Homo sapiens: one gene and its partners. The protein of the gene in region 3 interacts with the protein of the main gene of each other region in a pairwise test. Each region holds a gene or a part of one and is shown on either strand. Other genes may lie near its edges. The genes, in order: SYBU, RUFY2, EXOC1, SNX18, CAMSAP2, WASHC1 and MLLT10.

What was found.
Region 1: the proteins of EXOC1 (region 3) and SYBU interact in a two-hybrid assay, tested with the Homo sapiens proteins (2 studies listed by BioGRID and IntAct).
Region 2: the proteins of EXOC1 (region 3) and RUFY2 interact in a two-hybrid assay, tested with the Homo sapiens proteins (one large-scale study listed by IntAct).
Region 4: the proteins of EXOC1 (region 3) and SNX18 interact in a two-hybrid assay, tested with the Homo sapiens proteins (one large-scale study listed by IntAct).
Region 5: the proteins of EXOC1 (region 3) and CAMSAP2 interact in a two-hybrid assay, tested with the Homo sapiens proteins (one large-scale study listed by IntAct).
Region 6: the proteins of EXOC1 (region 3) and WASHC1 interact in a two-hybrid assay, tested with the Homo sapiens proteins (one study listed by IntAct).
Region 7: the proteins of EXOC1 (region 3) and MLLT10 interact in a two-hybrid assay, tested with the Homo sapiens proteins (one large-scale study listed by IntAct).

Annotation. Positions count from the first base shown.
Region 1 is NC_000008.11:109,617,323-109,620,822, forward strand, and holds part of SYBU (syntabulin), read right to left. Parts: intron 1,718-3,500; coding exon 1,520-1,717; intron 1-1,519. UniProt on the Homo sapiens protein: Part of a kinesin motor-adapter complex that is critical for the anterograde axonal transport of active zone components and contributes to activity-dependent presynaptic assembly during neuronal development.
Region 2 is NC_000010.11:68,404,478-68,408,452, reverse strand, and holds the start of RUFY2 (RUN and FYVE domain-containing protein 2), read left to right. Parts: upstream 1-1,175; 5' UTR 1,176-1,263; coding exon 1,264-1,267; exon of another isoform or gene 1,268-1,590; coding exon of another isoform or gene 1,591-1,699; exon of another isoform or gene 1,700-2,628; coding exon of another isoform or gene 2,629-2,632; intron 2,633-2,987; exon of another isoform or gene 2,988-3,008; intron 3,009-3,608; coding exon 3,609-3,782; intron 3,783-3,975.
Region 3 is NC_000004.12:55,870,648-55,874,147, reverse strand, and holds part of EXOC1 (exocyst complex component 1), read right to left. Parts: intron 3,471-3,500; coding exon 3,243-3,470; intron 3,048-3,242; coding exon 2,915-3,047; intron 2,300-2,914; coding exon 2,190-2,299; intron 1,394-2,189; coding exon of another isoform or gene 1,340-1,393; intron 1-1,339.
Region 4 is NC_000005.10:54,524,259-54,527,758, reverse strand, and holds part of SNX18 (sorting nexin-18), read right to left. Parts: intron 1-3,500.
Region 5 is NC_000001.11:200,846,893-200,850,392, forward strand, and holds part of CAMSAP2 (calmodulin-regulated spectrin-associated protein 2), read left to right. Parts: intron 1-317; coding exon 318-400; intron 401-747; coding exon 748-817; intron 818-1,139; coding exon 1,140-3,342; intron 3,343-3,500. UniProt on the Homo sapiens protein: Key microtubule-organizing protein that specifically binds the minus-end of non-centrosomal microtubules and regulates their dynamics and organization.
Region 6 is NC_000009.12:16,735-19,456, reverse strand, and holds part of WASHC1 (WASH complex subunit 1), read left to right. Parts: exon of another isoform or gene 1-311; coding exon of another isoform or gene 312-431; intron 432-964; coding exon 965-1,076; intron 1,077-1,282; coding exon 1,283-1,429; intron 1,430-1,601; coding exon 1,602-1,738; intron 1,739-1,977; coding exon 1,978-2,113; intron 2,114-2,290; coding exon 2,291-2,492; intron 2,493-2,580; coding exon 2,581-2,722. UniProt on the Homo sapiens protein: Acts as a component of the WASH core complex that functions as a nucleation-promoting factor (NPF) at the surface of endosomes, where it recruits and activates the Arp2/3 complex to induce actin polymerization, playing a key role in the fission of tubules that serve as transport intermediates during endosome sorting.
Region 7 is NC_000010.11:21,540,732-21,544,231, reverse strand, and holds part of MLLT10 (protein AF-10), read right to left. Parts: intron 1-3,500. UniProt on the Homo sapiens protein: Probably involved in transcriptional regulation. In vitro or as fusion protein with KMT2A/MLL1 has transactivation activity. Binds to cruciform DNA.

The DNA of each region.
Region 1 (3,500 bases), on a different chromosome or scaffold from region 3:
GGGGAAAGGGGGAACAGAGTGCTGATGGACTTGGGGTTTCTTTTTGGGAGTGATACAAACTTTTTGGAATTAGTAAATGGTGATGTTTGCACAACAGTTTGAATAGGCTAAAAACTATTGAATTGAACACTTTATAGGGTGAATTTTATGGTATATGAATCATATCTCAATTTTTCAAAAAGGCAGTTGAGCTAAGGGAGACAGTCCTAGCCCTTGGGTACACAAGGTAATTGTTTTATTTCTTGGCTAAAATTTCATGACATTCTTTAACTCATTGTCTCTTTCTTAAATATCAAGGGTGCTCAACACCCTTTGTATCATCCCCATCTTTCTCATTTATAGGCTGTCTTTCCTTCTTCATTGTGTAGCATTCCTTTTCTTTTACATATTATTCCAAAGTGGGAGACTATTAACGAATTCATTATGACTAACATTTATCAGGCACCACTAGGAAATAGAGGATTTCTTTTTCACAGTTTAAGTTTTCCTTGGTGACAAAATGACCTAATCTTTGGTTGACAAGAGCAAGATGAAGAATAATCCATTATGATGTATTGTGTACATCAGTGACTCAGGAAGAACAAAAGCAGAAAGAAATGTTAGCATCCTATGGAAGAGGACACAGGGCTAGGCCTTGGCCCCATCAAAATAAAACCATCTGTAGCTCCTTGCACAATAATGTCATCACCAAACAAAACTTAGAAGACAAATGTAAGAAACAAGGACTCATGCAAGCCAGTAATCTGTCTTTTCAGCTCATAAATATGGATAGCATAACTGTGAATGTTAAAGAGAATAATGCAATGTTAGAGGATACCTCCCAATGACGATGAACACATCCTTTTACTTTAAAGTAAATATACTGCATGTGTATTTCTGAGATACAAAATATTCATTTACATAGTGCAGATTCTGAGAATTGACCTTTTCTGATGCTGCTGGCATTTCATTCACTGCAGTGATGACCTCCATTTCATCTTATAGCTTCTAATATTTTGTAATTATTGAACATTTACATGTGTTTATACATATCATATTCATATTTAAATCTCTAAAAGACTATAACTAAGTTAGCAAGTATGCCCAGCTCTACATATTTGCATCAAGATAACTCCCAGCTCTACAGAGATTTGCATTGAGATAACCTGTTCTCTTCACGGTTTGTGGTCACTTATGATAGTACTAACTAATTGCTTAGTATAATTGAATCTAGAATTACTCATATAGTTTAAATGCTTGTTAAAACATCTGGCTTATATTTCTTCACTTTTGTCTCTTTTTTAAAAAAAGCTCTTTATAATGAATACACATGTCACTATAGGTCACTATAGTTACTCAGTTATTAAAAACCATTTCAGAAAATAGTCCACTTTCCACCCTGCCTCCTTTAAAAATGATGCTTTAGATGCTGGGTACGGTATTTGTGATCCCCGACTCGATATACAGGTGTTTAGTTTTAAACATGAAACTACTCCCATCACATTGTTCTGATGAAAACATGACGAGTAAGTTCACTGACCTGGTTTCACAAGGCCTGACTTTGATTCCTTCTTATATCGAGAGGACTGAATGCTTCCTTCACCAACCATTCCAATCGTGCATTTCTTTCTGGTGAAGCCTTCATCACTTCCAGGGCAAAAGCCAATGGGGCTGTTTCCAGCATCTGAGGGTGTCTTCACAGGAGACACTGACTGGCTGCTAGGACAGCCTGTGTCATCTAGAAGACAGGAATCAATAAGTGTTTAATGATGAGGAGGAAATCAATGATGGTGAGAAGCCATGCGGTGCACCACACACACGCACACGTGCACTCGCACACGTACACTCTGCTTATGAAGCCCAGGTTAACTGCTGTGGACTCTCCTCTCATGACGCTCCTTTCATTTTTCCATATTTTAATGCAAAACCTTTTTTTTTTTTTGAGACAGTCTCACTGTGTCACCCAGGCTGAAGTGCAGCGGCGTGATCTCAGTTCATTGCAACCTCCACATCCCAGGTTCAAGCAATTCTCGTGCCTCAGCCTCCCAAGTAGCTGGGATTACAGACGTATGCCACCAGGCCCGGGTATTTTTTGTGTGTATTTTAGTACAGACAGGGTTTCACCATGTTGGCCAGGCTGGTCTCAAACTCCTGGCCTCAAGCGATCCATCTGCCTCAGCCTCCCAAAGTGCTGGGATTACAATCATGAGCTACCATGCCCGGCCCCTTGTAAGCTTTTTGACACAAATATTTCTGTAACACTCATTTTGTCAAAACATAAAGACATGTCTGTTTCAACACTTTATATAGTGTATTTTTGGGTCATATGTGTCCATAGATTTTTGGATGTGTTTAGTAATAAGAAGTTCACCAGAACAATTCAGGATCTTTAGGGTGAACTCTTCAGAGTTTACATCTGGAAAATAAAATTACTTGAATATTATTGACCACATCCAGTTTTGGATCACTTGACCCATCAATTGGTTAACAGAGTTTGAAAGATAAGTCATCCGACTTTAGGGTTCAAAGAAGCAGTGTGAAGTGATCCTGTTTTATCATACACACACAACCAAAAATACATAAATCAGATATATTGCTATCTGGAGTAAACTGGTAAGATGAAAATGATTTTTAGACTAGAAATGTTCCTTTAACTTTCAAATAACAGATTATTACCAGGGTGATTATATTAAGTTAATATGCACGATATGAAGTGACCTACATAGATGCTTATTATGGAAACAGGAAAGTCATACTGCTGACTCCTATAAATGCGTTCCACATTTATTAAAGTACTTAGGATAGTTGGTTAATTTATTTATATTTTGATGAGCAGAACTGTATTGGACCTCAAAGCCAAATCAGTATTACTTAAAAGTACATCTACTCAAACTGATCAGTTAGTGGTAAATTTACTTTACTAAATAATCTTTATTATATGAAGATGTTTTGATGCCAGAGTTACTTTAGTAACTCATTAGACAAAGAACAAATAAAGACATTCAGTACTAATAACTTTTCAGACATCTTGTGAATATTACGGGAACTAAAATAATGTGCCATCTACCAAAGGCTATCTTAAAACTCTACAGCTTGAATAAAGATAGAAACAGAACTAAGCCTGAATAAAACATGCTGATTGCTAGAATCCATCTAAAGAAAGAATTACCATTGCTTCATTTTTTGGCCTTTATTTCATTTTTCAATTACAAAATATCTCAATTCCTGGAACAGAGTGAACTTGGCACTAATAAAATGACTTATTTCTCTTGATAATCGTGTTTTGACTTTTTGGTCTATCAGCATACGCAGGACCTCTGTGGTCTGTTTCTGGAAGTGAATGGTTTTTAGGGTGCTGCTCATGCCTGCAGTCTTCGGGCTCTTTTAAATACGTTGCGTTCTTCCTGAACTCCTGAAGAAACTCTGGCCCTGAATAACAGGGTGATGAGAACCCTTCTTGGTGGCTGTTGCTCAGCTCTTTCATCATTCACTGCCCTTGCCTTTCCCTTACACTTACACAC
Region 2 (3,975 bases), on a different chromosome or scaffold from region 3:
GGCACGCGCCACCACGCCCGGCTAATTTTTGTATTTTTAGTAGATATGAGGTTTCACCATGTTAGCCAGACTGGTCTCGAACTTCTGACCGGGTGATCCGCCCGCCTTGGCCTCCCGAGTAGCTGGGACTACAGGAACATGCCACTACGTCTGCCTAAATTTTGTATTTTTAGTAGAGACGGAGTTTCACCATGTTGGTCAGGCTGGTCTCGAACTCCTGACCTCGTGATCTATCCAGCTCAGCCTCTCAAAGTGCTGGGATTACAGGCATGAGCCACCATACCCAGCCGAGGTCTGAATTTTAGTGCTTGTGTGGATATTGCTGTGGCACATAATGAAATATTTTTGAATTGTTTTCTCTCTTTTTTCACTTTAGCTTTTTGTAATGAGCTTTACCAAATTGTTTTAGGGCGGGCTGTGTGGCTCAGGCGTTATCCTAGCACTTTGGGAGGTCGAGATGGGCGGATCACCAGGTGAAGAGATCGAGACCACCCTGGCCAACATGGTGAAACCCCGTCTTTACTAAAAATACAAAAATTAGCCGGGCGGGGTGGCGCGCGCCTGTCATCCCAGCTACTCAGGAGGCTGAGGCAGGAGAATCCCTTGAACCCGGGAGGCAGAGTTTGCAGTGAGCCAAGATCACGCCACTGCACTCCAGCCTGGTGACAGAGCGAGACTCCATCTCAAAAAAAAAAAAAAAAAAACAACCCAAAAAACAAAAAAAAGTCGTAATTTGGGACTAACTAGTTTTATTAGGTTTCTGCCTACTGTTAATTGCTTCAGATTTTCTAAATTCTTTTGGTCCCCTTTGTGTTTGTGAAGGTGAATGGGCAGTAGTCAGGCGTGTTAGATCAGGCCCCACCAGCCCGGTGGAAGCAACGTTTGCGTGTGGCCGGCCGCCCCTTGAAATCCGGCCTTCGCGCTCCAGCGAAGCCCCCGGGACACGGGACCGAGGGCCCAGCACTCTGGCTCCTCACACATGTGGTCTCCTTCACGTTCCTTTCCTTCTCCTCGCGGTCCCAGCGGATGCGAGGAGGCTTAGAGACGGCGGGCTTCTCTCCCGCCCGCCGCAGGGTCCGCGGGTCCCCGCCCCGCCCGGGGCGCCGCTCCCCCTGGGGCCGCCCGGGCGCCCTCCCGCCGCCGGGGGCGCTGTGGGCTGCAGCGGGCCTGGCTGCAGATGCGGTGGTGGCCGCCGAGCGCCTGGAAGGAGCTGCTGGACAGGCCGAGGGAGCCTCCGCCCGAGACCGCGCAGCCGCCGCCGCCATGGGTAAGGCGAGCGGGCCGAAACCGAACGCTAGGCCCTCAGTCCCGGGCTGAGGGCCGCGGCCAGGCGGGGTGGACTGGGAGCTGGGGGAGACGCCGAGGCCGCCAGTCGGAACTGGGGCCCGAACCCAGGATGGGCGGGGACTGCCTGGGACTCGGGGGCTCCCGGGGTCGTCATGGCAACGCGCCCCCTCCCTTGTTCCGGCCCGTTCCCGCCCGGGTTCTGAGGCATAGTGGCCGAGGGCTCGAGGTGCCACGGCGTCCAGGAGCGAGGACAGGGCCAGGCAGGGTGTCACTCCCGGGTCGGGGAGCAGGCGGGGAGGGGCGATGACTTTTCAGGTTTGGGGGTGGCGGAGGGAAGACGCATCTCAGGTTTTGGCCTGGGTGCCTGACGCCGAGGGCGGGAGACGGGGAATGCTGACGCGCAGGAGCCTGGGTGAGCCCGCCGCGATGGTCCTGGGGGGCCCCCAGGCCTCTGGGCAGCCTTGCTGGGGGGAGGGGGCAGGAAGAGAGGCAGGGAAGGGGCTCTAGGCCCCGGCAAGGTGCGGGCACTGGCCCTGGTACTCCTTGCGCGCCTGCGGCCGGGTTTGGGGGTCGCGTACGGGCCGGAGAAGTCCTGTAGCGCAGCCGGGGCGTGGCCGCGGTGTGAACGCCCCTCGGCGTGGGAACTGCCGGTGCCCAGCACCGATCTGCCTCCCAGCAGCTGCAAAACACCCTTTGTGTGGTTGTCGCATCGCACGTTAGGAATTATGATGGGCTGTGTTAAAAATGAGAGTTGCCACGGATTATGAAACATGAAGTGGTTTCACTCCCGAAAAATAGTGGGAGTCAGACCACGATGCAGATTTGAAGGAATTCGTGTGTGGACATTTTTCCACCAGGCAGTTTGGCCATAGCAGTTGTGGCTGTTTGCATTTTAGGTTGCTTAGGATTCAGTGTCAGGCTTCATGCCTAGCTATCTAGAAATCGGAGCTGGAATACTAGATCATTGGAGACTCTGGGTTTTTTGTTGTTGTTGTTGTTCAGTGAAGGAAAAACGGGCACATTGATTACTTGTAAATTTGTCAGAGATTATGAAATGTTATACTAAGTGCTTCGTTTTTCCACACCTTAGTTTTGTCATCTGTGTTTGTTGAAGGTATTCCCACCAGTCACAACAGTGATGAGATGATGGGGAAGCGTCTGAATTTCTAAGTAAACTGAGAATAAAATTTGCGGGAAGGAGGACAATATTTTTGTGAATTGAAAATATCTTACTTGATGATACTGTGTCTTAAAAATATCAATTAAAAATCAGGCCTTTTAGAATTTGCATCTATTAACTTGGTATTCAGACTGGCGCTGTGGGCATCCTCAACTGTGTGGATGGGTGAGGAACATTAATGTAAAACTGGTCTCTGCTTTTATTTTCTCTTTGAAAATAAAACAGTCATGCAATACAGAACTACAGTCAGAATGAAGAAGCCAGACAGAAAGAGGGTAGACGAAAGAATTGGACGGCTTCTTCTGTGTCCCCTTGTCAGTGTATTTTACCTGTCATGTTTGTTGTGGATGACACTGGAATCCTAGAATTTTAACTACCTTTTATTTTATTGCCAGTTTATTCTGAACATTTTTGCCTTGGAATTCATCCTAAGACCGTACCTGCTATCTACCTTTTGCATGAGGCCCTTAAACCTGTTGTCTCTCACCCCAAATTTATCTCCATAGAAGATCATTTTAAAAAACTCATTCTCTATGAAGAGGTACCAGGAAAGTTAAATACAGGAGAATGGCAGATTTGCAGGATCTTGAGAATAATTCATTAACTTTGGCTGGAGTGGTCATGGAAATTTTCTTTTTTCTTTCTTTCTTTCTTTTTCTTTTTTTTTTTTTTGTGAGACGGAGATTCGCTCTGTCACCAGATTGGAGTGCAGTGGCGCTATCTCAGCTCACTGCAATCTCCGCCTCCTGGGTTCAAGTGACTCTCCTGCTTCAGCCTCCCGAGTAGCTGGGACTACAGCCGCGCACCACCATGCCCAGCTAATTTTTGTATTTTTAGTAGAGACGGGGTTTCACCATGTTGGCCAGGATGGTCTCAATCTCTTGACCTCATGATCCACCCGCCTTGGCCTCCCAAAGTGCTGGGATTACAGGCGTGAGCCACCGCGCCTGGCCGGAAATTTTTTACAGTATATGTGAGAGATGTAAAGAGAAGTTAATCAAGGGTGTGGTTTAGCTGGGGAGAATTTGTCAACCAAGGAACAGCAAACTACTGTTGGTTTTTATAGGGGAAGGGAATGGTTTGTATATTTTTCATTGTCATGTCTTACAAATGATGTTGGATTCCTTTCTTGTGTTTTCAGCTACAAAAGACCCCACAGCTGTAGAGAGAGCAAACTTGTTAAACATGGCTAAACTGAGTATCAAAGGACTCATTGAATCTGCTCTGAGCTTTGGCCGCACTTTGGATTCTGACTATCCCCCCTTGCAGCAATTCTTTGTTGTTATGGAACATTGCCTGAAACACGGTCTTAAAGGTATCATGAGATTTTAAAAAATTAATTCATTTTAGAATTTCCGTTTTTCAAGTGCCCTTGAGAATGGGTTATTTTTTGAGGCCATAATTACGTTACTGTGCACTAAAAAATATTGAGTGGATTGATTTTGGGAGAAAATATCTTATGACTATGTTTTCTAATAATGGAATAATAAATGGTCTTCAGAAAATGC
Region 3 (3,500 bases):
AAGTCCTACCTTATCTGCAATTCCTTCCATATCTCACTCCTTAAATTCTCAATAAACTCACTTTTGATTAAACCTTTTTAGCACTTACAGTCCACAGTTCTACAATTAGCAATTTATTACATACATTGCTAATGTACATTAGTCTTAACTCCTTACAAAGAGTAAGTACATTAGTTTTAATTCCTTCTTACAAGCATCTTGAGGGTAGGAACTATTGCTTATTCTTATATATGGTAGACAGTGAGTACATAATAAGCATACAATGAAAATTCTGTGATTGCCAAAGAGGTGTACCATATTATTTTAATCAATTTTCCCAGCTTGTCTCCCTACCAGGAATAGAAATACCCATGTTTCTCAACAATTTTGCTAGGTGACCTGATGCACTGAATGCAACACTAAGAAAATCTTTCTTATGTGTGGGATATCTTCTTCCACCGTTTTTGGCACACCCCAGGTTGTCGCAGCGTTCTGATTTTTAACATGCATCACTCACATGTAATAACACATATCAGCTTTTCAGAAATGGGAAGCATTCATTTTAAACGAGGCCATTAGTTTACAAGGCAAGAAGCAAAATCATAAATAACTGCATGTTACAACAAACAGTTAAGGGTACAGAAAAGACTATTGTTTACTGGCTGGTATTTTCAATACTATCTAACAAATGTGGATAACATAATTGTCAACAGTGTCATTTTTAAAAACTAAGGAATTGTATAGAAATAGATGTTATTGAAGTAAGTACCTAACAAAAACATGAATTAGTATTTCCTATGTGACATTTAAGCTTACTTTTTTCTCGACACTTTTCAGTCAAGTGGAATGTTAAGGGAATCTCTCTGATTCCCCCCTACCGTGCTTTTAGTTAGGTGGTCTTCCTTTACACTCCCACAGTCTCGCTGTCATAACATTTATCCCTCTTGAGTATATTATTTGTTTGTCTCGCTTCCCTAGACTGTGAACTACTAGAGGACAGGATTGGTCTCTCATTTATCCCAAGTTAATGTCTGGTATGTACCTCAATCACCTGGCAATACTAAATAAATGAAGGATTAATATTACTACTATTACTAAATGAAGGAGTAATATTACTATTTATTACTAAATGGAGTGAAAAAATGACAGAAAGAAAAGCAAGCAGAATGAGATTAAATGCTTTTTTGGCCAAAATAGTCTCTACTATGGGACATTTAAAAACTGCTACGAATGTGGTTAACAGGTAGCTTAAATCAGTAAGTTATAATCTGTAAAGATTCGGCTGCTGTTAAGTTTAGCAAACTTTATAGAAAAAAAAAAACAGAATCAGAGAAGCTTGAGCCAAATTTGATGTACTCACAGGAACCGAAAGAAAGTAGGACCTGTTATAGAGTTGAAGGAGGGCCTGAGTAAACTAATTGGAAATAAAATATAGTAAATACAATTGTTTTAGAATATTGCAAAGTGAAAATAAAGTAAAAATCCATTGTTTTCAGGCAGTATTTCTTGATGAACGAGATATTCCCCCAATTTTTTTTCATTCTATAACTCTAATAAAATAAAAGGGACTTTTAAAAGAGATGAAAAAATAAGAAACCTAATTTATTGTATTAGATATTAAAATGGCTTTTATTCAAATCCCTCAAAGGTACTCTTAATATTATTAATAACAATATTATTACCACACTCTTAATTATAACATCCTTTTCCATATAAAAATATAGGTAAAGCATTTATATGAAGATTAGATCAACTGAAATTTGCAGTTGAGCTAGTCATTTTCTTAACAATTATACTATGTACTAAGTACATAGAACTTACAAAACATTTAAAACACTGAATCAAGTCCTGAGTCTCACCTCAAAATACTGAAAAATAAAACAGGTCCAATAGTAAATATCTAACAAGTTTGGACTTACTTTATAAATAAAAATATCTAAGTAGTATATGCAATTCATATGCATAGTTATTTGATTTCTAGAATCAGAGAGCATCAGCTGAAAGGAACTAGACTGTCTACCAAAAGAGGCAGCTGAGGCCCAAAGTACATCTATGAGCAAAGAGGCTCCTATTTCAAAATCTTAAAATCAAATATGTGAAGGAATTGACTGCAACCCCAATTAAACATATTAACATTTTTGTGGAAATGTAAGGTTAATACATAAATAAGCTATAGGAACATGCTCGTTTTAATAATAAAATAAAATTACCTGTTGAACAAAAACATTGTTGAGGTGACTGGCCAGTCTCCGGGCAAAAAGCTCTCGCAAATCACTGAATCGCTGCTGTTGCTGTTTGACTGCCAGAAGCAAGTCATGGCCTGACACAGAACGACATTTTGTGACCAGTTTAATGGGTAAAAAGATTTCCTTGATGTTTAATGGAACATTAAACGTATCTAACGTTTTGAAGAACCCAAAAGTTTTATGGGTGTATTCATTTACATGATAAAAGTTAAGCAGGAGAAAAATGGGATTTCACAGTAGTTCTCAAAGTGTGGTCTTGCCTCACCATCGCCTGGGAACTGTTAGAAATGTGGATTCTAAAATCTCAGCCCAGATCTGCTGAATCTGGGACTGGGGCCAGGCAATCTATGTTTTTAACAAGACCTCTAGGGATTCTGACGGACACTCAAGTTTTGAAATAATTGCTCTCGTCTAACCAAAGCACCTACTTTCTGCTGGGTTCTGTGGATAGTACTAAATAAAGATCATGGTGTTGACTATAGTCATTGAGGACAATTAGAAGGAGGAACTGAAGTAAAAAAGTTCCTAGTATCAATAGAAATAAGTTGGGAAATCAGTGAAACTTGAATAGCTAATAATGTAACCCTTAAACCACTTGTCTCATGTATTTCTTGTCAAAACCTTTATAACAAGTTACAGGCTTAGTCTCACATTCTTGGTCACATTTTTGTCATTTCTAATGAACATACCTGGTCGAAGAGCTACATTCATGCACTGCAGAAGGGCATCAGCAGCATTGGTGCAGGCCTCAATGCCTCTGGAAGAAGCAAGATCTCCTTCCTGAAGGGCCTTTATATGACCTTTGGCCAAGTCCATGTGGTTCTAGAATATATGCAAACACACCATTTGCATGTGTAATTTTGGGAAATTTACAGGCAAGATGCTATTCAGTCCTATCATTAGGTCTTTGGAATTATTTTAAATCCTGTTCTCACAAGGAAATTAAAAAATGTTTACAAATGGGTTTTATATATCATCACTAGTTTTTTTTTGTTGGTAATTTATGATCATACTTACCACAAGGAACTCTATCTCAGATAGGAGTTTTACATTATTAGTGTTACTAAGATGAATTAGGTGGTTGCTTTCAGAGATCTGATCCATTTGTTCTTTTACACTTTGGAGCATTTCCTCATAACTGCTCAGTTTCAATTCAATCTGATCTACCTCCTTTAGAGCCTCATCTAGCAATTTCATCAGGATGTTGACTTGTTTTTCAGATGCCATGATTGACTGGATGTTAGCCTACAAAGTTAAAGACCAAAACAAACAAAC
Region 4 (3,500 bases), on a different chromosome or scaffold from region 3:
AGTTAACAGCTATACAACACAGGAACATAAAAACATAACCCACACACTAATAACTGAGCACCGCACAGACAATTATTCACAAAAGGACTACAATCCAAGGGGGATACTCCAAGGAAGGGGACTAGACCTGAAGCTAGAAAGTGCTTGTGTTGGGGTGGGGAGACATGGAGCAGAATGCATGAGCCTGATCTACCTAAAAGGAGAAAACTCAATTCCTGATTGCTGCTCCCCACCCCTGTTCTGACAATTCTTATTGTAGGCCAGGCCAAACAGGCCAAAATTACAGTCACCCTTGATGACTCCCCTTTCTCTTGCATGTCACATCCTTCACAATCCCATCTCTCAGGAAAACCTGTTGATTCTACCTCCAAAATATAGCTGGAGGGGGACCCCCCCCCCCGGCTCCCCGACCACCACCTCTGTTGTCTCCACTCTGGTCCAGGCCACCAGCATCTCTCACCTGGATTACTGGAGTATTTCCTACTAGCTCCCTGCTTCCATCCACCTTTGACTGCCACACGCCATTCTATTCTCATTGCTCTGGACTAAGTCTGTTAATATGTCCAGTTGGATGTCATACCTTGGCTCAAAATCCTGTAATTGCTTCCATCTGACTCGGGCTTTCATTCCAAGTCCTAACAGTGACCTGCAAAGCCTTGCAAATCTGACTTTCCATGACCTCATCTCCTAGGATCCTCTTAACTTCAACCACCTGGCCTTGCTGTTCCTCAACCTGCCTGGCACATGTCCACCCCAGGGCCTTACTTTAGCTAAACCCTCTGCCTGAAAAGCTCTCCCCCGAGATACCTGCTTGGACGACTCTCCTGACTCCAGAGTGATTCAGGTCTCTGCTTAAATCTCACTTTCTCAATGAGACCTACTTTGAGCACTCTTACTAGTACTTCATCCTGCCTCCCATGCCCTCTTTCCCTGCTCTACTGTTTTCTCCTAGCACATACCAAACTCCAACATACATCAAAACTTACCTCCTGTGTTTGTTTTTCATTGAGTGTCTCCACCCTGCTAGACTGCAAGCTCCACAAGGGTGGGGATCTTTGTTTTGGCCACTGATGCAACACTAGCATCTTGAATAGTGCCTGGACGATGATGGGTACATACGTATTTGTTGAATAAAATCTAGTTTATCTTTTAGAGGGTCCTATGAATAAATCTAATGATTTTATCTCCCCTTCCTTCACTGTCCCCTTACCTGCTAAATAACAATTTATTTAGCAGAAGAGGAAAGTCAAATCACAGTGACAGATAAGTCATAAGAAAAGGTACAGAAATGACAAGTGAACTAAAACTCATTCAAATTAAAGTTTAATCAAGCTATAAGATCAATATCAGAGGCTGGGCACGGTGGCTCACACCTGTAATCCCAGCACTTTGGAAGGCCAAGGTGGGTAGATTGCTTGAGGTCAGGAGTTCAAGACCAGCCTGGCCAATATAGTGAAACCCCGTCTCTACTAAAAAAAATAAAAAAGTTAGCCAAGCATGGTGGCACATGCCTGTAATCCCAGTTACTCGGGCGGCTGAGGCAGGAGAATCATTTGAACTCGCGAGGCAGAGGTTGCAGTGAGCCGAGATCGCATCACTGCACTGCAGCCTAGGTGACAGAGCAAGACTCCATCTTTAAAAAACTGTCATAATTTATCTCTTTGGTAGTCCTATTAATTTGGGTCAGAGAGAAGTCGCTCCAGCTGTCTACCATACCACAGCTTCAGAACACCCGGGAACCCTCACCAGGCAGCAGCAGGCCAGGTATTAATCACTTTTACATTCGAAGTTCCTAGTGAGGTAAGCCTGCAATGCGTGATTGCTGATCTGAACTAAACGTGCATAAATGTTCTTTCACATCAACTGATAAGGGCTTTTCATGCTCCCGTAAAACAGTCACATAAGTAGACAGAGAACACTATTAAAATCAGCCTGAAACAATGTCTAAAAGTTTCCTGGATACTTAAGACTACTCTTATTTTTTTAAAAAAGTCAACTAACAAAATAGTACCTAGGAAATAATGAACCTCACTTTTACAGATGAGGAAACTGAAGCTCAGAAACATTAAGTGATCTGCACCAGAACACGTGATTTGGGTTAGAGGGGAGCCAGGAGGAGACAGTTTACATACACTCTTCAATGTGAACAACAACAAACGATTGACTCCAAACAACATCTACATTTATCCCAGTTGCCATTACTTCCGGTGTGCAATACAGGGCGAACTGATTAAAGCAGATATTTAATTGCTAGACTGAAGACTCCTTGAGCTTTTGTACTTTTGCCTACAATTCTGGTGGCAATAGGTTGCCAGGAGGGATGATAAGATTACTGGAATTGTCCTTCAAAGGAGAGCGCCCTTAATTTTTTTTTTTTTTTTAAAGAGACAAGGTCTCACTGTGTTGCTCTGGCTGGATTTGAACTCTTGGGCTCAAGTGATTCTCCTCCCTCAGCCTCTCAAGTAGCTGGTATTAAAGCCATGTGCCACCATGCCTGGTTGTCATCTCCTTTTAAATTCACCCATCTATTTTTCAAAAATAAACATTTAGTGACTAGCTACTATGAACTATAACATTTAATTCTCATGCTGACCTCGTGAGGAAGTGCCCCCACTTGGCCAAAGATAAGTGAGCGTTACGCAGGTTAAAATAGCTTGTCCAAAACTCCTCCATGCCCACACACTGGCCCTCCAGAGCCCATGCTGGTCCCGACAGGCCAGCTCCCACTGCGATGAGGCTCTGCACCCACGGCTTCTTGGCTTGGCATGCTGCCCCTTCACTGGCACAGCTTCCTCAGCAGACCCAGCTCAGTCCCACCCCTTGGTGCAACTCCTGGGGCAGACTGGCCCATCCACCAGGCTCTCAGAATCCTGGCACAAGGAACTGCCGAGGCTGGCTGACCTGTCTCTGTAGCTAGTCAAATAACTCACTTAAGACCAGAGGCCTACCCAGCCCTCCTGCAGACACCGGCAGAGCGGCCAGATTCTAGTCTGTGTTGTATAAATATGAGACATGATACACGTCTGCCTTCCGGATATAATCTTGTCAAACAGAGCTCAGCATTACTCTGCCACTTTATAATCCTTTAGTTAATGATACAGAGCTTCAAAAATATATGGCAAATTAAATCTAACTTGATATTTAAACTTTGATTTAAAAATACATGGGGTAATACAATAATAGTTTTTTATTCAGCCCAAAGAGAAGGAACATATTAAATAGTTCAAGGGAAGTGTTTGTAAGTGAATCACAGAACTTCTCACTTGTTTGGGTTCTGGCATTATGCTTAGAAGTCCTAAGATGGCCAGACAGGACAACATTGCTGAACAAGGAAACCTCATAGGCTCCCTGAGTTACTGGGAGGAGGGTGGGAGTGCAGGTCCTCTGCCTCCCTTCGGTCCCACTGTGGTCGGCATGACTCTGAAGGCTATGTGGCTCAAAAAAGAAGTCTGAGAAACCCCTGACGGTGTGGTATGAGCGGTGCCCACACCCAGTTTCGT
Region 5 (3,500 bases), on a different chromosome or scaffold from region 3:
ATTTCAAATTGGTGAGTTTCATTTTACTTTTTTATATATCAGTTTTTATGTTTATAAAAATGAAAATAATTCATATCTCACAAAGACATTGAGATGTATATGAAAGTACTTCAAGTTGTTTGGCTAAAAGACATAAAATATATATAGATACATACTGTAATCACAGCCATTCTTTGGTTTAAACAATATGTTTCCATATTTTTAAAATTTAGGTTGTAGAATGAGAGGTGGTAGTGTTGTTTCTAACTTAAGACATTCTACCTAAATTTATATTAAACAGCTAAAATATAACATTTTAAATTTATTTTCCATTGCAGTGGGGAAGGAGCTACATTTACACAGTCTCATCATCATTTGCCTTCTAGGTATTCACGTCCCCAGGCTCATTCTTCAGCCTCAGGTAATATATTTGAAAAAGCCTAGGAAAATACTCTTTTAAGTAGGTTACCTGGGAAATGATTGACAGTAAATATAAATAAACAAATATCCAGGGTTTTTTTGTGTGTGTGTGTGTGTGTTTTTTTGTTTGTTTGTTTGTTTTCTGAAAAATGGCTATTATAACACACTAAAAGCATGGTCAGTTTCACTGTGGTTGCTTTTCTTGATAAAATTATCTCTAATTCTCCTTATGTACCTATTTAATTTGTATTGCTATTAATGAATCCTCAAATACATGAAATCTCCTAAGTTGCTATAAGTTAATTTTTTTACATGATTTCAATGGCTTTTTCTTTTTTGCATTTGAAGGAGGAATTAGAAGGTCTTCATCTATGTCTTATGTTGATGGCTTCATAGGGACATGGCCCAAAGAGAAAAGGTAAACAAAGAGAATTACTTTTAGTGTATTCAGATTATTAAGAAATGCAAATTGCATCTGTGTCTCTCTTTTATTGATAACCAAATTGCTAAAACTTTTAATTAGTTCCTAAATTTGAAAAAGGCAGTATAGGCAGATGATAGAGATGTAAAAGAGGCTAACTTTAAAAAGTAGCTAGATAGCCCTCCCCTTACCTTGAAGACAGTATGATTATGAGAACTGGGGAAAGAAAGGAAATGTAATTTCAAATAATTCTTGTTAAATGATACTAAAAATCATTTCTAGGATTTTTAAAGGATTTTTCTCTTTAACTTTTTTTTAGATCATCAGTGCATGGCGTATCATTTGATATTTCTTTTGATAAAGAAGATAGTGTACAGAGATCCACTCCAAACCGAGGAATCACTCGTTCTATTAGTAATGAAGGACTTACTCTGAACAACAGTCATGTATCTAAACACATTAGGAAAAATTTGTCCTTCAAGCCAATAAATGGAGAAGAGGAAGCAGAGAGCATTGAAGAAGAACTTAATATAGATTCTCACAGTGACCTCAAATCTTGTGTGCCCCTTAACACAAATGAACTAAATTCTAATGAGAATATTCATTACAAGCTTCCAAATGGAGCTTTACAAAATAGAATACTTCTTGACGAGTTTGGCAATCAGATCGAGACACCAAGCATTGAAGAAGCATTACAAATAATTCATGATACTGAAAAATCTCCTCATACACCTCAGCCAGACCAAATTGCTAATGGCTTCTTTCTTCATAGTCAAGAAATGAGTATCTTAAATTCAAATATCAAGTTAAATCAATCTAGTCCTGATAATGTAACTGATACGAAAGGTGCCTTGAGTCCCATAACTGACAATACTGAAGTAGACACTGGAATTCACGTTCCTTCAGAAGATATTCCTGAAACTATGGACGAAGATTCTTCGTTGAGAGATTATACTGTAAGCTTGGACTCTGACATGGATGATGCATCTAAATTTCTTCAGGATTATGATATTCGAACTGGCAACACCAGGGAAGCTTTGAGTCCTTGTCCAAGTACTGTAAGTACCAAGTCTCAGCCAGGCAGCAGTGCTTCTTCTAGTTCTGGAGTTAAAATGACCAGCTTTGCTGAACAAAAATTCAGGAAACTGAATCATACCGATGGAAAAAGTAGTGGAAGCAGTTCTCAAAAAACTACACCAGAAGGCTCTGAACTTAATATTCCTCATGTGGTTGCTTGGGCACAAATTCCAGAAGAAACAGGGCTTCCACAGGGACGGGACACTACCCAGCTGTTGGCCTCTGAAATGGTGCATCTTAGGATGAAACTAGAAGAAAAGAGGCGTGCTATAGAAGCCCAGAAAAAGAAAATGGAAGCTGCTTTTACCAAACAGAGACAGAAAATGGGAAGGACAGCATTCCTTACTGTAGTGAAAAAGAAAGGGGATGGGATATCTCCTCTACGAGAGGAAGCGGCGGGTGCAGAAGATGAGAAAGTATATACTGATCGAGCAAAAGAAAAGGAATCACAAAAAACTGATGGACAAAGGAGCAAGTCACTGGCAGATATAAAAGAGAGCATGGAGAATCCTCAAGCCAAATGGCTAAAGTCTCCAACTACACCTATTGATCCTGAGAAGCAGTGGAACCTGGCAAGCCCCTCAGAAGAAACTTTAAATGAAGGAGAGATTTTAGAATATACCAAATCCATTGAAAAGTTAAATTCATCCCTGCATTTTCTACAACAAGAAATGCAACGCTTGTCACTTCAGCAGGAGATGTTAATGCAGATGAGAGAGCAACAATCTTGGGTGATTTCACCTCCACAACCCTCTCCACAGAAACAGATTCGAGATTTTAAGCCTTCTAAGCAGGCAGGCCTGTCATCAGCCATTGCACCATTCTCCTCAGACTCCCCTCGTCCTACTCACCCATCTCCACAGTCTTCTAACAGGAAAAGTGCATCTTTTTCTGTTAAAAGTCAAAGGACTCCTAGGCCAAATGAGTTAAAAATAACACCTTTGAATCGAACCTTGACACCTCCTCGGTCTGTGGATAGCCTTCCTCGGTTAAGGAGGTTTTCACCAAGTCAAGTTCCTATTCAAACTAGGTCATTTGTATGTTTTGGGGATGATGGAGAACCTCAGTTAAAGGAATCCAAACCTAAAGAGGAAGTTAAAAAGGAGGAATTGGAATCCAAAGGGACTTTGGAACAGCGTGGACATAATCCAGAAGAAAAGGAAATCAAACCTTTTGAGTCAACAGTCTCTGAAGTCCTATCACTGCCTGTCACAGAGACTGTATGTCTGACACCAAATGAGGACCAATTGAATCAACCCACAGAACCCCCTCCTAAACCCGTTTTCCCACCCACTGCTCCAAAAAATGTTAATCTGATTGAAGTTTCCCTCTCAGATTTGAAACCCCCTGAAAAGGCTGATGTACCTGTTGAAAAATATGATGGAGAAAGTGATAAAGAACAATTTGATGATGACCAGAAAGTATGCTGTGGATTCTTTTTTAAGGTGTAGTATTAATCTGCATAGTTTTGGGCATCTTCATTAGATGAGTGTGGTTGTGTTGGATATTTTTTTTTTCAGTTGACATGCTTGCTTCTTTCAGTAGCAGTCCCTTTTGATACAAGTTCATCCCCATTAACTATAGTAACATTCAAGCACACTGT
Region 6 (2,722 bases), on a different chromosome or scaffold from region 3:
CCTTCCTCATGAACCCCAGTCGCGCCTCTGCCTTCTCATCCCTGCGCACCACACAGGCTCGCTCGTGCCCGGTGAGTGCTGAGGCTGCTCTGCACGTGGAGTATGGCCCTGTGGGCAAGGGCTGGGCTCTTGGAGGTAGGGGAGCTACAGGGGCGACTGGGAGGAGGATGTTGTGTTACACACGCATCAGAGTTAACTTTGCAGTGAGAGCGGCCTTGCTGCGGCCAAAGAACATGGAAAAGCATGAGTGGGGTGATGTGCCTTAAAGCATCAGACACTTGGGCCTCGGGCATCAGGAGCCAGCCACAGGGATGTCTGGGGAAATGGCGTTCCATGAGATGCAAGCACACAAGAATGCACTTGGCACATCTGGGGAACAGCAGGCAGCTGATATCACTGGGCCCACCCCGCACCAGGGAGGATGGAAGCAGGTGAGGAGCTAGACCACACTGAGGCGGTGGTCGGGACTCGGGGTTTGCTCAGTGAGCCGTTCACTATGTGCAGGGGCAGTTCCCCGTCTGAATTTAGGTGACGACACTCAGGTCCAGCCTTGCCAGTCTCAGCCTCCGGTCTCCGTTCCCCCTCTGCAGAGGCCACATTGTCTGCTGCACGTGATCATGAGGGGTTGTGAAGTGCTTGCCCCATCAGTAGCCATGTGTGCATGTGTAAATACCATCCTCTGTGTGCCCTGGAGGCTGTCCTTCAGATAGCATGTACAGGTGGCAGCATAGGGCCTGTCCCTTCTGAGAGTGCAGGGAACTCAGCACCGTCAACTCCTCGACCCTGCAGGTCAGATTATCCTTGTAGAGGCCCCCTGGATGGCACCAAGATCGGCCCTGGCAAGTAGGTGACCCTGACTTCAGAGCCCTTGCCTGAGGGCCTGGCCTGGCAGCTCTGCTGTTAGAAGCAGGAGGTGTGCAGAGGGTGGGGAGCAGCCCAGCCTCTGTGATCTTCTCCATGGCAGGATCTCCCAGCAGGTAGAGCAGAGCCGGAGCCAGGTGCAGGCCATTGGAGAGAAGGTCTCCTTGGCCCAGGCCAAGATTGAGAAGATCAAGGGCAGCAAGAAGGCCATCAAGGTAGTCCCCATACCCCTGTGTCCTGAGGCTACTGGGCAGTCCCTCCATTTCCCCGTGCCTCTGAGGCTGCCCAGTCTCTGCCCTGCTGCCCACCTGTACCTTGAGCTTTCTTCTCGCCCAGGCTTCCAACTCCACCCTCTCCTGCCAAGCAATCCTAGCCCTCTGAGCCTCTTGGGGCCCCCTCAGACTTGTCCCTGTGTCCACAGGTGTTCTCCAGTGCCAAGTACCCTGCTCCAGGGCGCCTGCAGGAATATGGCTCCATCTTCACGGGCGCCCAGGACCCTGGCCTGCAGAGACGCCCCCGCCACAGGATCCAGAGCAAGCACCGCCCCCTGGACGAGCGGGCCCTGCAGGTCTGCTGGCCGCGCATATAGCCTGTCACACACCAGGAGGACTGGATACTGGGGAGGAGCCGGGGCCACCATAGGGTTCTGTCCCCCAGAGGAGGCTGACTGGGATGGGATGGCAGCTGATTAGGCCCAGCACCAAATATTCACCATCCCTTGGCCATCCTGGCCCTCTCAGGAGAAGCTGAAGGACTTTCCTGTGTGCGTGAGCACCAAGCCGGAGCCCGAGGACGATGCAGAAGAGGGACTTGGGGGTCTTCCCAGCAACATCAGCTCTGTCAGCTCCTTGCTGCTCTTCAACACCACCGAGAACCTGTATGGCCAGAGGGCAGGGCCGAGGGGTGTGGGCGGGAGGCCCGGCCTGGCTTAGTGGGGACCCAGGGCATCAGACACAGGTACAGCACATAGGCCAGGAGCCAGGGGGTGACTGGGGTGGCTCGGCTCGGGAGGCCTGGGACCCCACAGTGCACACTGTGCCCCTGATGATGTGGGAGAGGAACATGGGCTCAGGACAGCGGGTGTCAGCTTGCCTGACCCCCATGTCGCCTCCGTAGGTACAAGAAGTATGTCTTCCTGGACCCCCTGGCTGGTGCTGTAACAAAGACCCATGTGATGCTGGGGGCAGAGACAGAGGAGAAGCTGTTTGATGCCCCCTTGTCCATCAGCAAGAGAGAGCAGCTGGAACAGCAGGTGGGAGGGGTGGGACAGAGGTGGAGACAGGTGCAGTGGCCCAGGGCCTTGCCAGAGCTCCTCTCCAGTCAAGGCTGTTGGGCCCCTTATTCCACCCATGGGAGGTGCACACAAGGTCTTGTTGGCTGCCCCTGCAGGTCCCTGTCACCTCTCACATGTCCCTGCCTAATCTTGCAGGTCCCAGAGAACTACTTCTATGTGCCAGACCTGGGCCAGGTGCCTGAGATCCATGTTCCATCCTACCTGCCTGACCTGCCCGGCATTGCCAACGACCTCATGTACAGTGCCGACCTGGGCCCCGGCATTGCCCCCTCTGCCCCTGGCACCATTCCAGAACTGCCCACCTTCCACACTGAGGTAGCCGAGCCTCTCAAGGTAGGTGAGCTGGGTTCTGGGATGGGAGCTGGGCCGGGGACCTCCCTGCTCACACACCTTCTTCCCTAGACACCCCACACTTTGTGTTTCAGACCTACAAGATGGGGTACTAACACCACCCCCACCGCCCCCACCACCACCCCCAGCTCCTGAGGTGCTGGCCAGTGCACCCCCACTCCCACCCTCAACCGCGGCCCCTGTAGGCCAAGGCGCCAGGCAGGACGACAGCAGCAG
Region 7 (3,500 bases), on a different chromosome or scaffold from region 3:
ACCATAGGAGGCAACATGGTGGTTAAGAGGTAACACAGTGGTTAAGAGCTTAATCACATCCCAGACTGTCATAAAACATCTATCTCTCTTAAAACTATAGTATCCTTACCCATAAAGTAAGAATAATATCCACCTCATAGATGTGACAGGATGCTTAAATGAAGTAACTGGCATAAAACATTTAGCACAGTATGTGGGCACATAGTAAACACTCAAAAAGTTAGCTACTCATTTTGGAACAAGTAGCACAGTAAGTCGGCAGAAAGAAAAGAATGGAAGCAGGCATGCAGACAAAAGTAGAAAAAAGATTCATAAGACTAATTCAATTCCCTTTCTGGGTGAAATACATTTCCATGTTAGGGTTCTTGACTCCTGTGTCCTTATAATACAATGCCCTTTCTTTGCTTATCTGTTTCTTACAAAGGACCCTGCCTTTCATAATTATACACTACAGACCGGGCATAGTGGCTCACAATGGTAATCCCAGCACTTTGGGAGGCCAAGGTGGGCAGATCACCGGAGGTCAGCAGTTCGAGATCAGTCTGACCAACATGAAGAAACCCCATCTCTACTAAAAATACAAAACTTAGCTGGGCGTGGTGGCACACACCTGTAATCCCAGCTACTCCGGAGGCTGAGGCAGGAGAATCGCTTGAACCCGGGAGGCGGAGGTTGCAGTGAGCCAAGATGATGCCACTGCACTCCAAGCCTGGGCAACAAGAATTAAACTCTGTCTCCAAAAAAACATAATATATATTTTTAAATATAATTTTAAAAAGGTTTTGCTTTTGCCTCTTCTTTAAAAATCCTTGGCCAGGCAACATGGCTCACGCCTGTAAACCCAGCACTTTGGGAGGCTGAGGCGGGTGGATCACCTGAGGTCAGGAGTTCGAGACCAGCCTGGCCAAAATGGAGAAGCCCTGTCTCTACTAAAAATACAAAAATTAGCCGGGCATGGTGACGCATGTCTGTAACCCCAGCTACTGGGGAGACTGAGGCAGGAAAATCGCTTGAATCCAGGAGGTGGAGGTTGTGGTGAGCCAAGATTGTGCCATTGCACTCTAGCCTAGGCAACAAGAACGAAACTCCATCTCAAAAAAGAAAAACAAAAAACTAGCCGGGCATGGTGTCTGTAATCTCAGCTACTCCGGAGGCTGAGGCAGGAGAATCACTTGAACCCGGGAGGCGGATGCTGCAGTGAGCCGAGATCGCGCCATTGCACTCCAGCCTGGGCAACACAGCAAAATTTCGTCTCAAAAAAAAAACAAAAAAAAAACCTTAATGTCACCCACATCCCACCAAATGATGTTAAAATAAAATGCCCCCCTGCAAAAACTTCTTTTTCTTAAAGAGGGTTTCACTTTGTCACCTGGACTAGTGTGCAGTAGTGTGACTATAGCTCATTGCAACCTCAAACTCACAGGCTCAATGGATCCTCCTGCCTCGGCCTCCCACGTAGCTAGGACAAGTACACCACCACATGTGGTTAATTTTTTTTTTCTTTTTGTAGAGATAAGGTCTCACTATGTTGTCCAGGCTGATCTCCAACTTGTGGCCTGATCTCCAACTCAGGCGTGATCCTCTCACCTCGGCCTCTCAAAGCACTGGGATTATAGGCGCAAGCCACTGCTCCCAGCAGCATCTAATATATATATATTTTTTTGAGACAGAGTTTCACTCATTGCCCAAGATGGAGTGCAATGGCACGATCTCAGCTCACTGCAACCTCTGCCTCCCGGGTTCGGGCGGATCTCCTGCTTCAGTCTCCCGAGTAGCTGGGATTACAGGCGCTCACTACCACGCCCGGCTAATTTTTTGTATTTTTAGAAGAAACGGGGTTTTAAGATGTTAGCCAGGCTGGTCTCGAACTCCTGACCTCATGTGATCTGCCTACCTGAGCCTCCCAAAGTGCTGGGATTACAGGCTTGAGCCACCATGCCCAGCCCTAATACACCTTTTAAGTTAACTACCTTATTCACACTGACACTTTGACCATGTCCTCAGAGAGAATAAAAGAGTGGAAGCACGTAACAAGTGGCATTTGAGGCAAATGATGCTGGCATTCTGACACTCCCTATTCATTATCTTCTCTCTCTGAATACCCACCTTATTTTCCTATCTTTTCCAGCCTTCAATCTACTGTGACACCCCCAGGAACAGCCTCATCTCATTGTCAGTGTTTACTAATAAACCATACGTTCCACTGCGTAGTGACCTATTCACCACAAACCGTAACATGATACAAAGAAAAAAAAGTCAAAGAGTAACGCTATAAAGATTTCACCAAGTCCCAAACTTTCTATGATTGATTTTATCCTCCATTTGCTAAATCACACTAGAATAACAGCTGTAATTCTATTAAAGTGCATTCTCACACACAACCAAAACATATCATCGGAACTATAAAAAAATTGCTCTGGCCGGGCACGGATGCTCACACCTGTAATCCCACCACTTTGGGAGGCTGAGGTAGGAGGACTGCTTGAGCTCAGGAATTCCAGACGAGGCTGGTCAACAAAGCAAGACCTCATTTCTAGTAAAATTCAGGCCGGGCGTGGTAGCTCACGCCTGTAATCCCAGTACTTCGGGAGGCCAAAGCAGGCAGATCACCTGAGGTCAGGAGATCGAGACCAGCCTGGCCAACATGGTGAAACCCCATCTCTACTAAAAGTACAAAAATTAGCTGGGTGTGGTGGCGCATGTCTGTAGTCCCAGATACATGGGAGACTGAGGCAGGAGAATCGTTTGAATCCAGGAGGCAGAGGTTGCAGTGAGCGGAGATGGCGCTACTTCACTCCGGCCAGGGCGACAGAGCGAGACTGTCTCAAAAATAAAATTAAAAAATTAGCTGGGTGTTAAGTGCTACAGGCCTGTAAGTCCCAGCTACTCAGGAAGCTGCGGCAGGAGGATCTCTTGAGCTCAGGACTTCAAGGCTGCAGTGAGCAATGATTGCGCCACTCCACTCCAGCCTGGGGAACAGAGCAAGACTGTCTCAAAATAATAAAATACAAATAGTTCTGAGACTCAACACATTTTTATAGGTTACTCAACCATTATTTCTTTCTTTTTTTGTGAGACGAGTCTCGCTCTGTCGCCCAGGCTGGAGTGCAGTGGCGCAACCTCAGCTCACTGGAACCTCTGCCTCCCAGGTCCAAGCGATTCTCCTGCCTCAGTCTCCCAAGTGGCTGGCATTACAGGTGCACACCACCACACCCAGCTAATTTTTGTATTTTTAGTAGAGGTGGGGTTTCGCCATGTTGCTCAGGCTGGTCTCAAACTCCTGACCTCAGGTCATCCACCCACTTTGGCCTCCCACAGTGCAAGGATTACAAGCACGAGCCACAGCACCCAGCCCATTATTTCTACCGCTCAAAAATTGCCCAGGCAAACACAAAAGCTTCTGCTTTTGCTATATGCCTAGGTAAAGAAGCTAAAATGTTTGTTCTCTACCTTCAGTCTAATTCCATAATCAACACCAAGGGAAAGGAATTTGCTATAAC